2 separate regions of the Homo sapiens genome follow, and region 2 is linked to region 1. The links come from fine-mapping of genetic effects on gene expression. Tissue or cell type: whole blood. Region 1 holds a variant in brackets; the other region holds the start of a gene. All regions are shown on one strand. Distances are from middle to middle.

Region 1 (10,499 bases):
TTTGCCTTGCTATTACATATCTAAAATTTACCAAGTTATAAAATAGCTCAAAGATAATGAAAGGCTAGAGTCAGATAATCTGGACCAGTGTGCTATAGACAATAGTTTTCCCTGGAAATGAAATTTTTTAATACCTTAAGAACAAAAAGATATTAACATGTACCGGATGCCTATTAAACCCTATGAGATCCTCTGAGACACCCTGGAAGATATATGACTAGTACCTAATTATATGATTAAAAATACTGCTTTAAGAAATGTGTTGCACTGTCTGTCAGACCACAGTGCAATCAAACTAGAACTCAGGATTAAGAAACTCACTCAAAACCGCTCAACTACATGGAAACTGAACAACCTGCTCCTGAATGACTACTGGGTACATAACAAAATGAAGGCAGAAATAAAGATGTTCTTTGAAACCAACGAGAACAAAGACACAACATACCAGAATCTCTGGGACACATTCAAAGCAGGGTGTAGAGGGAAATTTATAGCACTAAATGCCCACAAGAGAAAGCAGGAAAGATCTAAAATTGACACCCTAACATCACAATTAAAAGAACTAGAGAAGCAAGAGCAAACACATTCAAAAGCTAGCAGAAGGCAAGAAATAACTAAAATCAGGCAGAACTGAAGGAAATAGAGACACAAAACCCCTTCAAAAAATCAATGAATCCAGGAGCTGGTTTTTTGAAAAGATCAACAAAATTGATAGAGCGCTAGCAAGACTAATAAAGAAGAAAAGAGAGAAGAATCAAATAGACGCAATAAAAAATGATAAAGGGGATATCGCCACCGATCCCACAGAAATACAAACTACCATCAGAGATTACTATAAACACCTCTATGCAAATAAACTAGAAAATCTAGAAGAAATGGATAAATTCCTCAACACACACTCTCCCAAGACTAAACCAGGAAGAAGTTGAATCTCTGAATAGACCAATAACAGGCTCTGAAATTGGGGCAATAATTAATAGCTTACCAACCAAAAAAAGTCCAGGACCAGATGGATTCACAGCCGAATTCTACCAGAGGTACAAGGAGGAGCTGGTACCATTCCTTCTGAAACTATTCCAATCAATAGGAAAAGAGGGAATCCTCCCTAACTCATTTTATGAGGCCAGCATCATCCTGATACCAAAGCCTAGCAGAGACACAACCAAAAAAGAGAATTTTAGACCAATATCTTTGATGAACATTGATGCAAAAATCCTCAATAAAATACTGGCAAACTGAATACAGCAACACATCAAAAGGCTTATCCACCATGATCAAGTGGGCTTCATCCCTGGGATGCAAGGCTGGTTCAACATACGAAAATCAATAAACATAATCCGGCATATAAACAGAACCAAAGACGAAAACCACATGATTATCTCAATAGATGCAGAAAAGACCTTTGACAAAATTCAACAACACTTCATGCTAAAAACTCTTAATAAATTAGGTACTGATGGGACGTATCTCAAAATAATAAGAGCTATCTATGACAAACCCACAGCCAATATCATATGGAATGGACAAAAACTGGAAGCATTCCCTTTGAAAACTGGCACAAGACAGGGATGCCCTCTCTCACCACTCCTATTCAACATAGTGTTGGAAGTTCTGGCCAGGGCAATCAGGCAGGAGAAGGAAATAAAGGGCATTCAATTAGGAAAAGAGGAAGTCAAATTGTCCCTGTTTGCAGATGACGTGATTGTATATCTAGAAAACCCCATCATCTCAGCCCAAAGTCTCCTTAAGCTGATAAACAACTTCAGCAAAGTCTCAGGATACAAAATCAATGTGCAAAAATCACAAGCATTCTTATACACCAATAACAGACAGAGAGCCAAATCATGAATGAACGCCCATTCACAATTGCTTCAAAGAGAATAAAATACCTAGGAATCCAACTTACAAGGGATGTGAAGGACCTCTTCAAGGAGAACTACAAACCACTGCTCAATGAAATAAAAGAGGATACAAACAAATGGAAGAACATTCCATGCTCATGGGTAGGAAGAATCAATATCATGAAAATGGCCATACTGCCCAAGGTAATTTATAGATTCATTGCCATCCCCATCAAGCTACCAATGACTTTCTTCACAGAATTGGAAAAAACTACTTTAAAGTTCATATGGAACCAAAAAAGAGCCTGCATTGCCAAGTCAATCCTAAGCCAAAAGAACAAAGCTGGAGGCATCACACTACTTGACTTCAAACTATACTACAAGGCTGCAGTAACCAAAACAGCATGGTACTGGTACCAAAACAGAGATATAGACCAATGGAACAGAACGGAGCCCTCAGGAATAATGCCACATATCTACAACTATCTCATCTTTGACAAACCTGACAAAAACAAGAAATGGGGAAAGGATTCCCTATTTAATAAACGGTGCTGGGAAAACTGGCTAGCCATATGGGGAAAGCTGAAACTGGACCCCTTCCTTGCACCTTATACAAAAATTAATTCAAGATGGATTAAAGACTTACATGTTAGACCTAAAACCATAAAAACCCTAGAAGAAAACCTAGGCAATACCATTCAGGACATAGGCATGGGCAAGGACTTCATGTCTAAAACACCAAAAGCAATGGCAACAAAAGACAAAATTGATAAATGGGATCTAATCCAACTAAAGAGCTTCTACATAGCAAAAGAAACCACCATCAGAGTGAACAGGCAACCTACAGAATGGAAGAAAATTTTTGCAACCTACTCATCTGACAAAGGGCTAATATCCAGAATCTACTTTGAACTCAAACAAATTTATAAGAAAAAAACAAACAATCCCATCAACAAGTGGGCGAAGGATATGAACAGACACTTCTCAAAAGAAGACATTTATGCAGCCAAAAAACACATGAAAAAATGCTCATCATCACTGGTCATCAGAGAAATGCAAATCAAAACCACAATGAGATACCATCTCACACCAGTTAGAATGGCAATCATTAAAAAGTCAGGAAACAACAGGTGCTGGAGAGGATGTGGAGAAATAGGAACACTTTTACACTGTTGGTGGGACTATAAACTACTTCAACCATTGTGGAATTCGGTGTGGTGATTCCTCAGGGATCTAGAACTAGAAATACCATTTGACCCAGCCATCCCATTACTGGGTATATACCCAAAGGATTGTAAGTCATACTGCTATAAAGACACATGCACACGTATGTTTATTGCGGCACTATTCACAATAGCAAAGACTTGGAACCAAGCCAAATGTCCAACAATGATAGACTGGATTAAGAATATGTGGCACATATACACCATGGAATACTATGCAGCCATATAAAATGATGAGTTCATGTCCTTTGTAGGAACATGGATGAAGCTGGAAACCATCATTCTCAGCAAACTATCACAAGGACAAAAAAACCAAACACCGCATGTTCTCACTCATAGGTGGGAATTGAACAATGAGAACACGTGGACACAGAATGGGGAACATCAAACACCGGGGACTGTTGTGGCGTGAGGGGAGGAGGGAGGGATAGCATTGGGAGAGATACCTAATACTAAATGACGAGTTGATGGGTGCAGCACACGAACATGGCAATGTATACGTATGTAACAAACCTGCACGCTGTGCACATGTACCCTAAAACTTAAAGTATAATAATTAAAAAAAATGTGTTGCAATGTTTAGAGTTACCTTAATAATTACTTGGGGAGGCCGGTTGCAGTGGCTCACACCTTTAATCCCAGCACTTTCGGAGGCCAAGGCGGACAGATCAACTGAGGTCAGGAGTTTGAGACCAGCCTGACCAACATGGTGAATCCCCATCTCTACTGAAAATACAAAAAGCCAGGCATGGTGGTGCATGCCTGTAGTCCTAGCTACTCAGGAGGCTGAGGCAGGAGAATGGCTAGAACCCAGGAGGCGGAGGTTGCAGTGAGCCAAGATCACACCATTGCACTCCAGCCTAGGCGACAGAGCGAGACTCTGTCTCAAAAAAACAAAACAAAACAAAACAAAATACATTAATTAATAATTACTTGGTGAGCTGGGATTTATTTGTATTTATATCTAATGATTCCAAAGACTACTTTTCTTCCTCACAAAGAAATCAAGATGTAGGGCAGGGACAGATGTGTCAATAATAATTATATGCCATGTGCCATGTCTATGTCTGTTTGCACAAGAGGGGCACAAAAAAATATCCAATGTGATCTCTTCACTTGTATGGCCTTTCGTGTCGCAGAGACGTACACATTTATGTTTTTCTAAAGACTTAAAAAATTTTTTAAACTATAGTTACTTGTTAGTTTCAAGTAACTTTTTGACTTTGGGCTGGGGGCTAGGGGCAAGAACACAATGGAATTCAGAACACAGAGGCAATAATTTAGAACATCATCTGCTTAGATAACTTTATTTCATTTATTCAGACATCATTCTTGTGAGCATCAAATTTTCATTTTAGACATTTAAGTTGCAATAAGGTACAAACATTCTTTCTCAGAATTATTTCTCAGCTTTTAAAATCATGTTTTTAAATTTCAGCCTAATTTTAGATTGACAGAAAAGTTGCAAAGATAGTACACAGAGTTCCTGCATATCCTTCATCTAGTTTCCCCCATGGAACCTAGATATATTTTACCATTGTAAAATACGATGGTACATTTGTCACAACTAAGAAGCGGATGCTGGTGTTTACTATTAGCCAAACACTGGGCTGTATTGGATTTCATCAGTGTTTCCATTAGCATCTATTTTGTGCTCCAGGATTCAGGCCAGGGTACCACATTGCATTTAGTTTGCATGGCTCCCCAGGCTCCTCTGCTCTGCGACAGTTTATCTGTCTTCCTTATTGTTCATTACCTTAACAGTATTGAGAAGTACCGCCCAGGAATACTGTAGAACACCTCCCCATGTGGGCTGGTCTGTCATTTTTCTTATGATTAGACTGGAGTCTACGTTTTTGGAAGAGTATCACATAGGTGAAGTGCCTTCATTGTCGCGTCATATTGTGGGGAGGCGCTATGTGATATCCACATGACATCAGTGGTCATGTTAACCTTCATCACACTATAATTTCTCAGAATTTTTAAGAGTAATTTTGGCTCTTGTTTGGTTGTTTCATCAGAAGTATGGAGATGAGAAGTTTAGAAGGTGGGTATCGTTCTCTGCTCTGCTGACAGTCTCTACTGTTCATGAGTCAGTGCCTTGGCTTTCTCTACTGTCAACGTCCTTCTCCAAACAGGAAAGGACAAGAAAAACCACCAACC[C/G]TGTTAAGTGGTGTGTGGTTTATTCCTGCACAAGCCAGAGCAGGAGGAACATGCTGGCTTCCAGTAATTCACGAAGAAGTTCTGCTAAGTCATTACTCGCCCCTCCTGTAGCAAACCCTGTAAAGCATAAGAGCATTTCCTGGGCAAATAATACATGGCCCCTTTGCAATCATGTAAAGTGCCTGTATAAGTTTTGAAATTAAGGAGACCCTGCTCGGTCTCAGAGAGATTCAGTCTCTCCCAGCCTTTCAGACTCTTCTAGTGGTCATTGGTAGGTTTAGCAGAAGTCTCTGTTGCCCTCTTTTTCTTTTTCTCTTCTTTTCTTTCTTTTTTTTTTTTTTTTTTGAGACGGAGTCTCGCTCTGTCACCCAGGCTGGAGTGCAGTGGCGGGATCTCGGCTCACTGCAAGCTCCGCCTCCCCAGTTCACGCCATTCTCCTGCCTCAGCCTCCCGAGTAGCTGGGACTACAGGCGCCCGCCACCACGCCTGGCTAGTTTTTTGTATTTTTAGTAGAGATGGGGTTTCACCGTGTTAGCCAGGATGGTCTCGATCTCCTGACCTTGTGATCCGCCCGCCTTGGCCTCCCAAAGTGCTGGGATTACAGGCGTGAGCCACCGCGCCCGGCCTCTGCTGCTCTCTTTTTGAGAATAAAAGGGTCACACCTCAGACTCTCTTCCGTGGATTCAGGTGGTGAAAGTGTTTTCTAAAATACATGTATAATGGACTAAAAATGGCAATCTCTTTCTTTTTAAGTTCTTTTTTTCTCTTCGCTTACACAGTCTGTACATAGGCAGTTTTTCTTTATAGAGATGCCAGATTTTAAGGGGAAAAAAACCGCTGCATGCATCGATCTTTTCGTATAAAACAAAACTCATTTTTAGATTAGTTTGGGAAGGGATCAAGAACAAAGGAAAATGAAAACAATTATTTATTTGTTTATTTTCTTGGAGGCTTAAAATGGGCCACGCCTACTTTCTTTTTGGAAAAATACTACAGGAAGCCGACTGTCCCGTGTTAAAGGAATATGCTCGAACAAATAAAGTGAGTTTGGCAACAGGCTGGCTGTCTCTTACACCAGCTTCTCCCAGCCTGAAGCTCAGGGGAAAGAGGGGCCCGCGTGTATGCAAATTGCAGGGATTTGTGGTAGGAATTACTTCACTGAATGACGCATTTCCCAGTGGTATCTATAGATGGGCTTTTATTGTGTTTGAGGTTTTAAGTGAAGAGTGGGAAGATTTGCACAGATAGAACCATTTAACTCAATCTAAACATAAAAAAAAATAGCCAGCCTATTAACTGGTTGAATTCAGTTTCAGTTAGACTAATTTAGAGGGAATTGTCAAAGAACTATTTTACAGACCATTGTAAACGTTAAAATCAATATCGATTCAAGTGCATTGAAGAGACAGACTCCCATTTAAATATGTTGTTATTAGAAAGGGATCCTCCACTTGTATTTGTTGTAACTCTTACTTTTAAAAAATTGAGTTATAGTTGACATAATTAAGTGTATGTATGTATATACGTATATATGTGTCCAATTTAATAAGTTTGACATATTTCTGTACCAATGAAACCATCACTCCGATTAAGGAGGGGATTACAAAAAGGCGTATGAAAGTTTTTCAGAATGATAAATATGTCTTGATTGTAGCGATGTTTGTTATTTACATTCCAAATTTTAGGAGTTTTCAAGAGATCATTCTGGTTTTGAATTCTAATTTAAGTCTCAATTTACCAAAGACACACTGCACAATATGAATAATTTAAAATTTATTGACGGTTGTTTTCTTTCTCAGATTATGGTCTGTCTTTGTAAATGTTCCGTGTATGGTACAAAAAATGTATATTCTGGTGTTTGGAGACGGGTTATTCTATAATGTCAAAAAAGTCAAGTTTGTTTATAGATTTGTTCAGTTTTCCTATATCCTAGGAAAGTCATAAAGTCTACTTATTCTATTTTATATTTCTCCCAAAATAGTTGGGATATATTATTGGGAAATATATATAATAAAATAAAAATAATAAATAATAAAAATAATTGGGATATATTATTGGTAAATATATTATATTTCTCCCAATTATTTTGGGAGAAATATAAAACTCTCTATTTTTGTGATTTTGTCTTTTTCCTTACAGTTCTAGCAGATTTTGTTTTATAAATTTTGAAGTTATTTTATGCAGAACATACACATTTCAGATTCTTTTGTCCTCCTGACTAGTTGACATTTTTATTATCAGGAAATTAACTTATTTATCACTAGTAATATTCTTTGTTTGAGATCTACTTTGTAGGATATTAATATAGCTATTACAATTATTTTTAGTGATAGCATGGTATATCTCTTTCATCCTTTTATTTATTTTTTAAAAAGACTTCATTTTTAAAGAGCAGTTTTAGGTTCACAGTAAAACTGAGAAAAATGTACAGAGGATTTTTGTGTAGACCTTGCCTCCACACATGCATAGACCCCCACAATATCTACATCCTCCACAAGAGTGGCATATGTGTTACAACTGATGAGCCTACATTGTTGCATCACTATCATTCAAAGTCCATAGTTTACATTAGGATTTAGTCTTGGAGCTATACATTCTATGGATTTGGACAAATGTATAATGCATACAGTTAGAGTATCACACAGAGTAGTTTCAGTGCCCTAAAAATCCTCTATGCTCTACCTCTTCATCTCTCCCTCTTCCCTATTTCCAGGAAACTACAATCCTTTTACTGTTTCCATGGTTTTGCTTTTTCCAGAATGTCATATAGTTGGAATTATACAGCATGTAGCTTCTTCAGATTTTCATTTCTGTGGTGACATATGACATGGAACATACTTTCATATGCTTATTTACCATCTGTATTTCTTATTTGGTGAGCTGTCTGTGAAGGTCTTTGATCCATATTTTAATCAGGTATTTGTTGTCGTATTATTGAGTTTTAAGAGTTCTTTGCATATTTTGGATTACTTGTGAGAAACACACTCACCCATCCAAACCCAAAGAATGGACTTAGAGGCACAAAGAACAGCAAACGGTCTTGCAAGATCAGGTGTCTGATAGGCAGGCACATCCTGGGCAGTCACAACAGGTAATTTATCTCCTAGCATGCAAGTCCCTCCCCCAGTTCCTTATTGGTCAAGTACTATGGGGTTACAATCTTCCCAGACGTCACCTAAGTTTTATTATTTCCCTTATAAGGTTATATGCCATCCCAGTCCCCGCTTAAGTTTTGATTTCCCAATAATGAAACTTTCTTCCCTTTTATGGGCTGACCCCTCCTCTACATTCTATTCACTTACTGTGACCTTCTAGGTTCATGAGCCATGCAATTTGTTACATTTGCAGGCTGGCTGCCAGTACTTAGACTTATCATGCCTTGAAAGTGGACCATTTAAAATGTTTTCTCACATTACTGTCCTTTAACCAGATTTGTCTTTTGCAAATATTTTACCCCAGTCTGTGGCTTACCTTTTCATTCTCTTGTCAATGTCTTTTGCAGAGCCGAAATCTTTACTTTTAATAAAATTCGGCTTAACAACTTTTTGTCGTGGATTGTGTCTTTGACATCGTACCTAAAAAGTTTTCTCTGAACCAAAGGTAATTTTCATTTTCTCCTACGTTGTCATCGAGGTGTTTTATAATTTTGCATTCTGCATTTAGGTCTGTGGATTACTTTGAGTTAATTTTTGTTAAGGGTATTAGGTCTGCATCTCAATTTGGGGGTTTTTGTCTGTTCATTTTGGTTTGTTTTTTTGTTTCTGTGCATTTGGATGTCCAGTTGTTCTGGTGCCACTTGTTGAAAGAAACGATCTTTGCTTATTGGATTATTGTTCCTTTGTCAATCATCAGTGGGTTATATTTATGTGAGTCTATTTCTGGCCTCTCTCTTCTGTTCAATGGATCTATTTTTCTATTCTTTCACAATACCACACTGTCTTAATTACTCTAGCTTTAAAGTAAGTCTTGAAGTCAGGTAGTGTCAGTCCTCTAAGTTTGTTCTTCTCCTTCAGTATTATGTTGAATATTCTGGGTCTTTTGCCCATACTTTTTATATTTTTGTGTCTTTATAAAGTTTTTTTTTTAGGCAGCATGTAGGTAGCTCCTGCATTTTTATCCAACTTTACATTTTAATTTTTAATTGGTGTCTCTGACAATTTATATTTAATGTGATTATTGGTTTTATTAGGTTTCAATATATCATCTTTCTACTTATTTCCTATTTGTCCTCTCTGTTCCTTGTTTCCGTTTCTTCTTTTTGTAACTTCTTTGGAATTAGTTGAGTGTGTGTGTATGTGTGTGTGTGTGTGTATATATATATATTTTTTGAGATGGGGTCTCGCTCTGTCACCCAGGCTGGAGTGCAGTGGCGCGATCTTGGCGCACTGCAACCTCTGCCTCCTGGGTTCAAGCAATTCTCCTGCCTCAGCGTCCCGAGTAGCTGGGACTACATGCGCCCGCCACCATGCCCAGCTAATTTTTATATTTTTAGTAGAGACAGGGTTAAACCATATTGGCCAGGCTGGTCTCGAACTCCTGACCTTGTGATCCGTCCACCTCAGCCTCCCAAAGTGCTGGGATTACAGACGTGAGCCACTGCTCTCAGCCGAGTATATTTTTTTTATGATTCCATTTTGTCTTCTTTTAGATTAATTAGCTATACTCTTTGTTTTATTTTAGTCTTTTTCTAGAATGTGTCTTGAACTTATCACAGCCTACCTTCAAGTGATATTATACCACTTTATGTAAGTATAGAAGCTTTGTAATAATTTTCTATTTCTCATCTCCTGATTTTTGTGCTATTGTTCTGTATTTTACTTAAGAATAAAACTGAACAAAGGTAAAGGAAGGAAGAAAGGAAGAAAATAAAGGAAGGAAGCAAGAGAAGAGGCCGGGCGCGGTGGCTCACGCCTGTAATCCCAGCACTTTGGGAGGCCGAGGCGGGTGGATCATGAGGTCAGGAGATCGAGACCATCCTGGCTAACAAGGTGAAACCCCGTCTCTACTAAAAATACAAAAAATTAGCCGGGCGCGGTGGCAGGCGCCTGTAGTCCCAGCTACTCGGGAGGCTGAGGCAGGAGAATGGCGTGAACCCGGGAAGCGGAGCTTGCAGTGAGCCGAGATTGCGCCACTGCAGTCCGCAGTCCGACCTGGGCGACAGAGCGAGACTCCGTCTCAAAAAAAAAAAAAAAAAAAAAAAAAAAAAAGAGAAGAAAGAGAGACAAAACAGAATAGAACTGTAATTCCTTATCTGCAATTCAGAAATACAACA
Region 2 (10,499 bases), 25 kb before region 1:
AACCTCTTTCCTGGAGTGCAGACCTTTATCCTATCCAATTATCCACCTAACATCTCTACCTTGGGGTCATCCAAACATCTCAGACTCAGTGTCCATGAAGGTCATAATTCTCTGAAAAGAGGCTTCTCCTCCTCCAATACTGACTTATGTTACTGGCACCAAGCCAGCAGCCCAAGGCTCAAACCTGATCCACAGGCCCAGCACCTCCCTCTCTCTCATCACCCACCTCCACCTGGTCACCTGTGTAATCTTCCTAGTTATCTCTCAAATCCTGCCGCACCTCCACTTCCCTAAGGCCTTAATCAAGCCCAATAACCTACCTCCCTCCTGATCTACAATAACTTATGAGCGCCTTTCCTGCTGACTCACTGCCAGAGGGAGGGCATCTATTCTGTTCTCCCATAACATTGCACTACAAGGACTTCTATTCCGGTCCATGGGGATCATGTCTGTTTTGGTCACACTGTATCTCTTCTGGTGCCTAACATAATATTTAGCACAACTAGGCAGGCAACCAGTGACCACATGAATGAATGAACGCATGCATAGATGACACAGCTGGCATTCTCAGAATTAGATTCTGCTGCCTACCATAAACTCAAATTAATGTTTGTGTAAACATTTTTTTCTAGAGGGGAAGTAAAGGCACAGCAACCTTAGGTTTATACCCGAGAGCAAACCATCACTCTACGCACTCGCACACATATCCATGTCACTATCTGTACATTCTTACTCACGCTGCTTGACACCATGGGGCTATTTCGTAAAAAAAAAAAAAAAAAAAAAAAAAAAAGAAAAAAAAGAAAGGATTGAATCATAGGCAACTTTTTATTTTTTTACCAGAAAAAAAAAATGTAATAGGACAAGGCACAGCTCTTCTGAATATCTTCCAAAATGTAATGAACAAACACAGCATCACCTTCAAATCCTCTGTGGCCTGGGGAGGTGCTTGGCCTCTAGAAGAGAGGCCTCTAATAATCAGATCAAATCCCAGCATTCCTAAACAAGGAAACAAGGCCACCTTCCATAATCACCAACATCACTCCCCGCTGGGTAATCCATAGGAGCCCTTAATCATGACGCTATGGGAAATGGTATTTGCATGTGATGTAATCATTTATATGGAATCATGTCTATTCACTCATGAAATTTTAAAAGTCTGCATCAGGAGTAAATGACAATGAAGTTCTTCCTTCCTAGTTTGGAAATTTGTCTCTAATGAAAAATTTCTTAACCACAGTAGTCAGCAAATGACTACGATTGTTAAACAGGCACATCCCAAGCAATCCCAGGCCTGCCTCTTGGCCAATGCCAACACATAACAGTGGCATCGATGAAAACTCTCCCAGGCAAGATAAAAGAGGAAGGTTCTAAAACCAGACAGCCTGTGCTTGAATCCCGGCTGAACCACTTTCCAGCTGTGTGACTACGGACAATTTCCTATTTCTCTTTCAGTTTTCTCACATTTAAATCCAGTTGATCATAGCCCTGCGTTACCCAGGGTTTGTACCGAAGATTAAGAGTTAATATTTCTTAGCAAAATGCCTGGCACAACCTGAGAGCTCAATAAATGTTAGTGATAGTAATACAAATTATCATATTACAACACTAATATATTACTATTATTATTAATTTCAGTTCCCTCCCAGTGATCTCCATAAGGGATTCCATGCCCTATCTGTTCTCTTAAATATTAAGACCAGTGGTTTTCAGATTTTAGCATGCACCAGAATCATCCGGAGGGCTTCTTAAAGCACAGATTACTGTGCTCTAGACGCAGAGCTCCTAATGCGGGGTGCCTGAGAACGTGCATTTCTAACAAGTTAATCTCAGGTACGTAGGTGCTGCCGGACTCGAAGAACATCAGTGGAGGAGAATGAATGAGTCTAAACCACCAGGGATTTTTTTTTTTTTTTGAGACGGAGTTTCGCTCTTGTCTCCCAGGCTGGAATGCAATGGTGCAATCTTGGCTCACTGCTGCAACCTCCGCCTCCCAAGTTCAAGCCATTCTCCTACCTCAGCCTCCCAATTACCTAGGATTATAGGCACTGCCACCACACCGGACTAATTTTTGTACTTTTAGTAGAGATGGGATTTCGCCATATTGGCCAGGCCGGTCTCGAACTCCTGACCTCAGGTGATCCACCCAACTCGGCCTCCCAAAGTGCTGGGATTACAGGCGTGAGCCACTGTGCCCGACCACCACCAGGGCTTTTAATGGCTCTCTGCTCACTTAGAATGACCCTCCTGGACTCCATCAGAGTAACTCCAAACTCAGCTCAAGCCATCAGGAACCCTCCAAGGCCCCTGTGGCATCTCTATGCAAGCCTATAACAAAGCACTGTGATCAATGAAATCAGCTCCATGAGACTGGGAGTTCTTGACAATCAGGACTTCGCCTTACTCAGGACTTGGGACATTAGAAAACTCCCAATAAATGGTGACTGATAGTTGGAAAAGCCAATGGCCAAAGGCATCCCTGAGAAACAAACCAACCTGGAAAGTCTTGAAGACCAGCTCTCAGAATTGTTCGTTGGACATGAGTGTCCAGAGTGTCTCTGCTGTCCCATCCAGCAGTCTCTTCTCTGCTCAGTGGAGCATGAGTCCTTTGCCTTTAACCACAACTTTCCCTCTCACTCTTTGAGGGTAACAGAGCTTCAACTTTGGGCTTCTCACTAGCAGGGCCCCCCGTGGGTGTGACAAGCTGCTGGGAAATGCTGAGTGTTCTCAGGGAGAGGGGAAGCCGGATTGCAATCAGCACTCCTGTTTTTGTAAGCATTTCTGGTAAATTGCCCAAGATCTCCACAGAAACAGGCAGAAATCTCCAGTAAATTATCATCTCTTTTTCTCATTTTAAATACATATTCACTTTCACACCTAATTTTGTATTAATTTTCTTAAAGAGAGTCTCCAAATTGTTTACCTTTTAGGCCTCACAAAACTTGGAACTGCCCCTGCTTCATATCCCCTACATACTCTCCTCCTTCATCACCCACCCTGGTTCCCCATGAGAACACCTTACCAGGTCAGGCACACTTTTATAAACACCTTCTAGGAAGGACTTAACAGCTCAGCTCCTAAAGAGGAGTTTAAGGTGTCTGGCTGTTTCACCTCCACGTGAAGATAGAGGGAAAAAAAAAATCTGTGCCAAGATTGACGCAGGCAAAATATTCTACCTGATCCTCGCTTCACGGGCAAAGCCTTTTCTCAACAGTTAACTGGCAACAATTCAAGGTAATTTAAATATAAAACCCCTTCCATTTCTGTGTGTAATTACCAACAATTACAAGAAAAGTTTTAAGAAAGCAAGTGTTTTCCACAACAAGAAATATTATTTGAATTCAGAGTACTATTTTTCACTCACTTTCCATTCTCCACAGTATAATAATTTTAATTTGAAAATTACTTTCCTGGTTTACATGCACTTAAAGAAATTGTCAGTTGTTATAAATCCTTTATGCAAAAGTCAAATAAGGAACTTGATTCCTCGCCAGATCATCACATTGCAGTACTCTACAATTTCCAGAAGTAGTACTTCTGGAAATAGGTTTAAGGAAAAATATATATTCGTGTGTGAGCACAGGTTTACACAAACACAAAGTCCTTTCCAGGTGACAAGAGACCGCTAATCATCTTGCAGCTGTAAGAAATCAAGCTGAAATTGATTTCAAAGCCCACTCAGCTGAGAAACTCACCTCTGCAGGAGGAGACCATAGTAAAGCACACCAATAATAGGAAATTAGCTGTTCCTTCCATGTATAACACAGAGAGAATATATATGCAATTTTATTAATTGGCCCTGTTTGGATATATCAGGCCTTTCAAAATATGTTAAGAGACATAATAAATTTTATCTTTTAACATATTTTGAAAGGCCTTTCAAAATATGTTAAGACACATAATAAATTTTATCTTTTAAAGCTACATCTACTAGTCACAGATAGGTCACAGCTTGACCACACAAGTGCAATGAAAACAGTGCTCACTTCATTCCTGAGGACTACTTTAACTCCATTAATCCCCAGGAGATAGGATCTATGAATATAAATTTGAATTCTTATATTAAATCTGCCGGATTTACACTCTCCATCTTAGAGACAGCATGGAATAGTGAAAAAGTACGAGTTCTGCACTCAGAAATAGCCACATGCAATTTCTAAATTCACCACTGACCTTGTACAAATTACTGGACTCCTCTCTGCCTCAGTTCCTTATCTGCACAGGGGAATAGTATCTACTTTGTAGATTTCATAGACAAGACAAAGTGCCTAGCATGGTGCTTGGCACAGAGCTAATTCTTAATAATCTTATTTTAAGCATGGTTTTGACAATTTTTATTGCTTTGGAATGACTGATCAGGCTAATGACAGAGACTCTTCAAAGATTTACATTCTCCCTGCATTTAAATACTTATAACCAGCGATTACACAGGTGCTGCTGAGGCAAAGCGCAGCACCATTGGTCTCGTTCTAAACACCCACCTGTGAGGAATAAGTGCCTTAAGATTCCCCTTTGTATTAATATCAACACCTGTGCTACCCAACAGCACACCAGCCCGGCTCTCAGAGGTCTGCCCGTTAACAGGTGTACAATAAATATTTGTTGAATTGAAATGCTACTGACTCAAGCAAAAAATGAATGCTAATGTAAATTATAATCCATACAAATCCTTCAATAAGTGGTGTCTGAATTCTGTGCGTCCTGAAGCAAGTGTTCTAACGTCTCACGGTTCACTGAGAAGCTGCTTGGTACCTTAAGGGTTCGCACCCTTGTACCTTCCAGACCAAGCTCTTGTAAGCATCTAGAGGAGGCTGAAACCCTCAGTCAGCATCGCACAGAAGTTCATTCAGACTAGAGAAAACCTCTTTTATGGCAACCCAATCATTTAAAAAAAGCCGTCAGCACATTTGCTTAACAAATGGACAGTGCAGGAGGGAACTAATTGCGGAAACTAATCGCCACTCAAGTTCACCACCAACATCACTGTCTTTATTTTTAACTTACTTATCTTCAGTGGGATTGAGACACTGTTTGTTACCTACGCAATTATCCCAAGGATTTCTGCTCCGGTGTCGTTGAGCAAATGTCAGCGCAAAGAATTAAAGTTGAACCTCCGGGTCTCTACGAAGAGAGCGTATTAAAGCCCACCCAGCTGAGGAACTGACCTCTGTGGAAGGAGTCCTGGATGTGGCGGTGACTACCTCCGTAGCGCCCCGGGGAGACTGAATGTGTGGCCTTTAAAATGCAAAGAAATTCTGGGCCAGGCTGCCCTCCCCTAGTGCGCCTTCCAGTACGCCACGCCTGGATTTCTGCCTCCAGTCCTCAGGACACCTTTCTGATCTCTGAACCACAAGCAGCTCCGGGGTAGTAGCGCCACTGAATTCTCATCCTGGACCCTCCAGCTCCCCAACTCCCAGCTTCGGTTGAGAGAAGACGCCCACCCCCAGGCGGCGACCGTGCTGCCCGGCCCACGCGCGCTGCCAGGTGAACCCGGCACCGCCCTCACCTGTGCGAGGCCGCGTTCGGGGGCTGCAAAGCTGGGCAGGCGCGCGCCCCTCACCTGCACCGGACCCGCTGCAGTCGCCACTCGGAAGCGCAGGGAGCAACCCTGACGCGGCGGGGGCGGGGGCATCACCGAGGGCCCCCGGACTTCCTCGGGCCCCCCCACCGCCCTTGCGAGCCCCGCCTAAAGGGGAGGAGGCGGCCGCGCGTCACCTTTGAGCAGCCTCCGACCCAAGCGCCCGCGCTGCCGCCGGGAGCTCGGCCGGGTGTTGCAAGGAGGCGCTATGCTTGGTGCTGGGCACTGGCTGGGCGTAGAGAAGGCGATTACTTGTAACTCATTCGTTTGGGTTGGCTCACAGGAAAAGGAAGGTGTGTCCAAAAAGTCCGAAGTGAGGAAATAGGACGAGGATGGCTTGCAAACTCGTAAAGTCTTAATAAGCTGTCTTCGCTGATACTCAGAAGGGTTCTCTTCGCTCCTGTAGGTCCCTAATAGATTCATGGGAAGACAGCAGCCTCCCTTTGTAACGCCCTGACCCTGGGAAGAGGTACCCGAGCCAGACAGCCTATTAACCTATGCCACGTGTGCGCGACTGTGGGTGGAAGATGCCCGCCCAGATCCACAGAACTGTTTCCTGAGCCTTGGTGCCTCATCTATGAGATAAGGCCGGCGTACTGCTCAGCAAGCCGTCCCGAGTACTCGGCAGAGAACCCTAAAGACCCTCCCGTGCGATTGTTGGCACTCAGCGAATATTTGCTATTTATTTCCCCTTTCCCTTACTTTCTTTTTCTACTTTTTTTTACGCCGCTTTCCTGCTGTAATTGTCTTATTGCACTTTGTTTGCTCGGTTTCACTGCCTGGTCAGTTTCTTTTCCCGTCTATGAACGAGCCTAAGTCTGTGCGCTCTAGGAATTTGGGTGGATTAGGAAAAGAAATGTATGATCCATGCCTTCTGGGAGATCAGGGACTCATCTCTGGGAAATAGCATTTTTAAATTAGATACAAGAGAGTTACAGAAAATAACCTTAAAACGGGAATGGGACCTCTGGGAATAGGCGAGCTCTGAAATGAAGCGTTTAGTTGGTGTCACTGGTGATTAAGAGCTCCGGCTTTGGAGTCAGACCTCAAATCAAATTCTGCCTGGGCAACTAATTGTGTAAATGGACGAGTTCACTTAACCTCTCTAAATTTTAACTTCAACAAACTGGTTGTTTAAATAGCTTAAAATAGCTTAAATAGCTTAAAATAATAGCTATCTCATACTTTCTGAGAAATTAATTAGGTAATTCACATAAAATCCTCATTACAGTGTCCTGGGCCATGGTAACCACTTAATAAAAGTTAGCTATTAACAATACTAAGGTAGGAAATGGGAGGAAGGGGCATAAAAATTTAGAAAACATGAGGACGTGATAGAAAACAGCTGCCACTGTCATGCAATTCCGACTTACAACAATAGCTACCACTGAGGAACACAACTTCGCACCAGTTTCTGTGATTGGCATGTAACACGTGATCATATTGAATTTTCACAAACCAGGAGACAGTTAATAAAATCTCTGATTCAAGATGAGGAAAATGAGCATCAGAACCATGAAATAACCTGCCTGAAGCTATGAGTCAAGTTAGTAGCCGAGTCAGAGCAAGCTGAGGCCTATGGCAAAATTGGCTTTTCCCACCGTGCCGAAGGTTACATCCCCTAGCAGAGAACAGAGAGAGGTAAGGGTAAAACAGCATGAAAGGAAGAAGAGAAAGAGCAGTAGGCAGACGAAGCAATCATACCTTTAAAGCTGACTAAGAATACAAATGAATTAAAATAGTAAGTGAACCCACACAAAAGCTTTTTTGCCTTTAACTCCTGCCCCAGTGGAGTTCCTGTTCTGTGGTTCCGGCAGTCCAACCGCATTTTTCAATCATTAAATGGTATAGAAAGTGAAACAACTAAAGATACAGAAATCTAAGGTCACAACTTGCCCTTCCCACCACAATACACTCATCTGCCCAGCTTCCTGGGTTTTTTGTTTTTAATTGTTCAAACATATTACCTGTCTCCTTTTCTATGTTCCACCCAGGAAATGTCCCTTCCAGGGAATAATATTGTTGCTTATACCAATTTAACTTTACTACATAACCACACCAGCATTTAGAATGGCAACTGGACTCATACATGTAGCTGATAAATTTTTAACACACTTTTGTTATATTGAATTTCTCTAAACAGATTTTGAACCAGGTCTTACATTATAGGCACTGGTCAGTGATGTCATAATTATACTTAAAAAAAAATAAAATCTCCTGCACGTATCATAGGCAGCTTTCTCTCTCTTCTGAGCAACCAGATATTTGGCCTCTGAAGAAATGCCCCTATTGTCAATGTGATAATTGAGGTGGAGATTTCCCACTTTCAGATACAATTGCTTTTATATCTTAGACAATGTATGTTTGGTTGCATGACAATCTAATATTGGCACCTCTTCTTTTAAATTGTAAATGGAAGATGTGTCTTCTGAAGGCCCAGTGTACTCCTTGGCTATCATGGCTATACTGCCTGTCATACATGCAGAAGCACGGTTAAGTGCATACAAAGGCTAGATAACAATTAGTGCAGTTATCTAGCCACGTCCCTGTGCCTTTTTGAATGAGCCAGAGTATTTCAAATGAAACAAATGAAAATTGCTGTAGCCACCCAGAGTCTTTGACAATGAGGGTTAAAGCAGTCTTCTCTAAAGAAGACAAGACCCTGTCTGTAAATGCATAGGATCTAGAGTTCCATATCTTCTCTGCTCAGTGGGAGCCTCCTTGGGTCATCCTATCAGAGTTGGCCATGCAGTCAACACAGTCTGGCTCCATTTGGAGGACACAGAGCTAATCTTGCTGGGACAAGTCCCTTTATGTCAAAGAGAAAGCTGTCTGAGATCTGCTAGCAGTAATGTAAGGGCTTGGCACCTAGCTTCCCTCACATTTTCCTTCGTTGGTGCTTCTCATCATTTCTGGGCCGATAAGAGCAGAAGTAGAAAAATGACTGAGACATAAACATGTCAATTTAGATCTACCAGGGGTTAAAACGAATATAATGGTTAAAGCAAACTTCAGTCTATTGTCCAAGTAACAAATGTTTATTTTAGTGTGTGCTTTAAGGAAGAATATGCACTCTGTTACGTGGCGTTGAGAAATGGTACTTCTTTTATTGTTAGTGCAAATAGTCTTTGTTATTATATGTACTCAGGATTTTTTTTCCTTTGGTATAATTATCATGTTATCCCCTTTTTATAGGCAGGTGTGGAGAGACCAAATTTAGTGACTCACTCCAGACCTAGCTCTGCCACTTACTAGTTACGAGTTTATCCTGTAGGCTTCACTTTCTTGAACAAAAGAATGGACCTAACAGAAAATGAGTCCTATTCTCTAATTATTCAGAAAGACTTCTTATAAAATCTCTTTGGAAATCAACATCAGCATTGAATTGTCCTAATGATGATTCTATGTATCAAGTTCTTTTCTTTCAAATACCTAAACATGTATTTAACACAAGCTGATTAGCTGGAAATGTTCACAGGTAGTAAGTTGTTCAAAGATCGACTTTTATGGATGTTGTACCTTTATTGGGTGGGAACTTTTATGGCCAAAATGAACATCTGGTAGTGGTTGCTTCTGAAAAGTTAAAATTATTAGAGGCTTGGAGTTAACTCTTAAGAGACTGAGTCTGCCATTCATTAGATGGGTAAAGAAGAACCAAATTTACTTCTTCAGATGAAGGTTAACTTTGCCCAAGATTACTATCTCAGTACCAACATTTTTGTCTGACGATCTGAATTTCATTCAGTTAATTGCTTAAAACTTCCCCTAGGCCAGGGGAGAGGTTCATACTGTAGAGAATTTCTGTGGCCCCAAATCACATTTATTGAATTGTTCTCTAGTGTGTTGTCATTGGCAATAGTGGGGGGTATCTTAAGAATCTACCTTGGGAAATACGTTGTTGAACATACATTTGGCATGTTGGTCGGGGTCATTGTTTTTTAAAATTACACTGCCTGTTTTAAGATGATCCAAGGTAGAAGTTATCACTCATCTCAGATACAAAAATCTTGAGCTTTTCCACAACAAATGGTTTGTTTGCATCTTATGGGTTCTGCAAATAACACAGTTGAATTTGTTTTCCTCTCTAATTGAGCCACTAGAATGCACAGAGTGGCTCACCTCTGGCAAGTATTCAGAAATGCTTATTTGTGCATTGCACATTACAGTTATCTGTTTTTCTACCTGTATTTTCCAAAATGAGAGATGAAACTAGGGGAATTTTCAGGACAAGAATATTTAGATAACAATCAATTCTCCATGCAAAATAAGAAGTACATTCATTGATGTATTCATTCACATAATTAGCATGTATTCATCATCTACAACCAGGACCACAAACTAGGGTGCCTACATGGGTGAGACTGGTGAAATAGAGATTGACTGTGGTCACATATAAGAAGATAGAGACTGTGGCAAATAGCAGAGAGTAGGCCCACCTAAAGACATTCAAATTTACTTATTGTTAACCCTGTGCTGGCTAAAAAATACAGGTGGCCGAAAGCCTGGCAACCAGTTTGAATCCCCTGATCCATATATTAAGCTCTGTGATAAACTCTGTGGATATAACACAAATATGATAGCTTCTGCCCTCCAATGGCTCACATTTTCGCTAGATGTGTAAACAGATAAACACAATAGAGTGTCAGAGTGAAGAGGCCTTGATAGTAGCACCTGCAGAGCCCAGCAAGTGGTGTAAAAAACCAGGTAGAAAATACACCAGAGAATCAGCAGAAACCGGGACCCCAGTCAGTCCCAAGTGATGAAAAAAGGGAGTCTTCATGGGTGAAACCTGGCTTACACAATTGAGATAAGTACAGACTCAACTGGCAGACAAAGATCAGTTCAATAAATGAAGCCAGCCATCTAGCAGTATTTCCATAATCTTAATCAGAAAATCAAAATATAGACAAATGTGGAGAAA

The links. PIP is the estimated chance that this variant, and not a neighbour inherited with it, causes the effect.
Region 2: it holds the start of MCTP2, and the variant in region 1 is fine-mapped to the expression of MCTP2 in whole blood (INTERVAL, PIP above 0.99). The same link has a PIP of 0.9 or more in blood mononuclear cells, esophagus mucosa, monocytes and thyroid.

What each region holds. Positions count from the first base shown.
Region 1 is chr15:94,201,415-94,211,913 of GRCh38, reverse strand. LOC105370984 (a long non-coding RNA gene) reads left to right here and starts at 5,024. Exons shown (of 2, transcript XR_932640.1): 1 at 5,024-5,111. The variant C/G (reference allele first, on the strand shown) is at 5,228.
Region 2 is chr15:94,226,672-94,237,170 of GRCh38, reverse strand. It overlaps MCTP2 (multiple C2 and transmembrane domain containing 2), which reads right to left and starts at 5,610. Exons shown (of 23, transcript NM_001385001.1): 1 at 5,507-5,610. RefSeq lists a silencer at 5,551-5,680 and an enhancer at 7,216-7,355.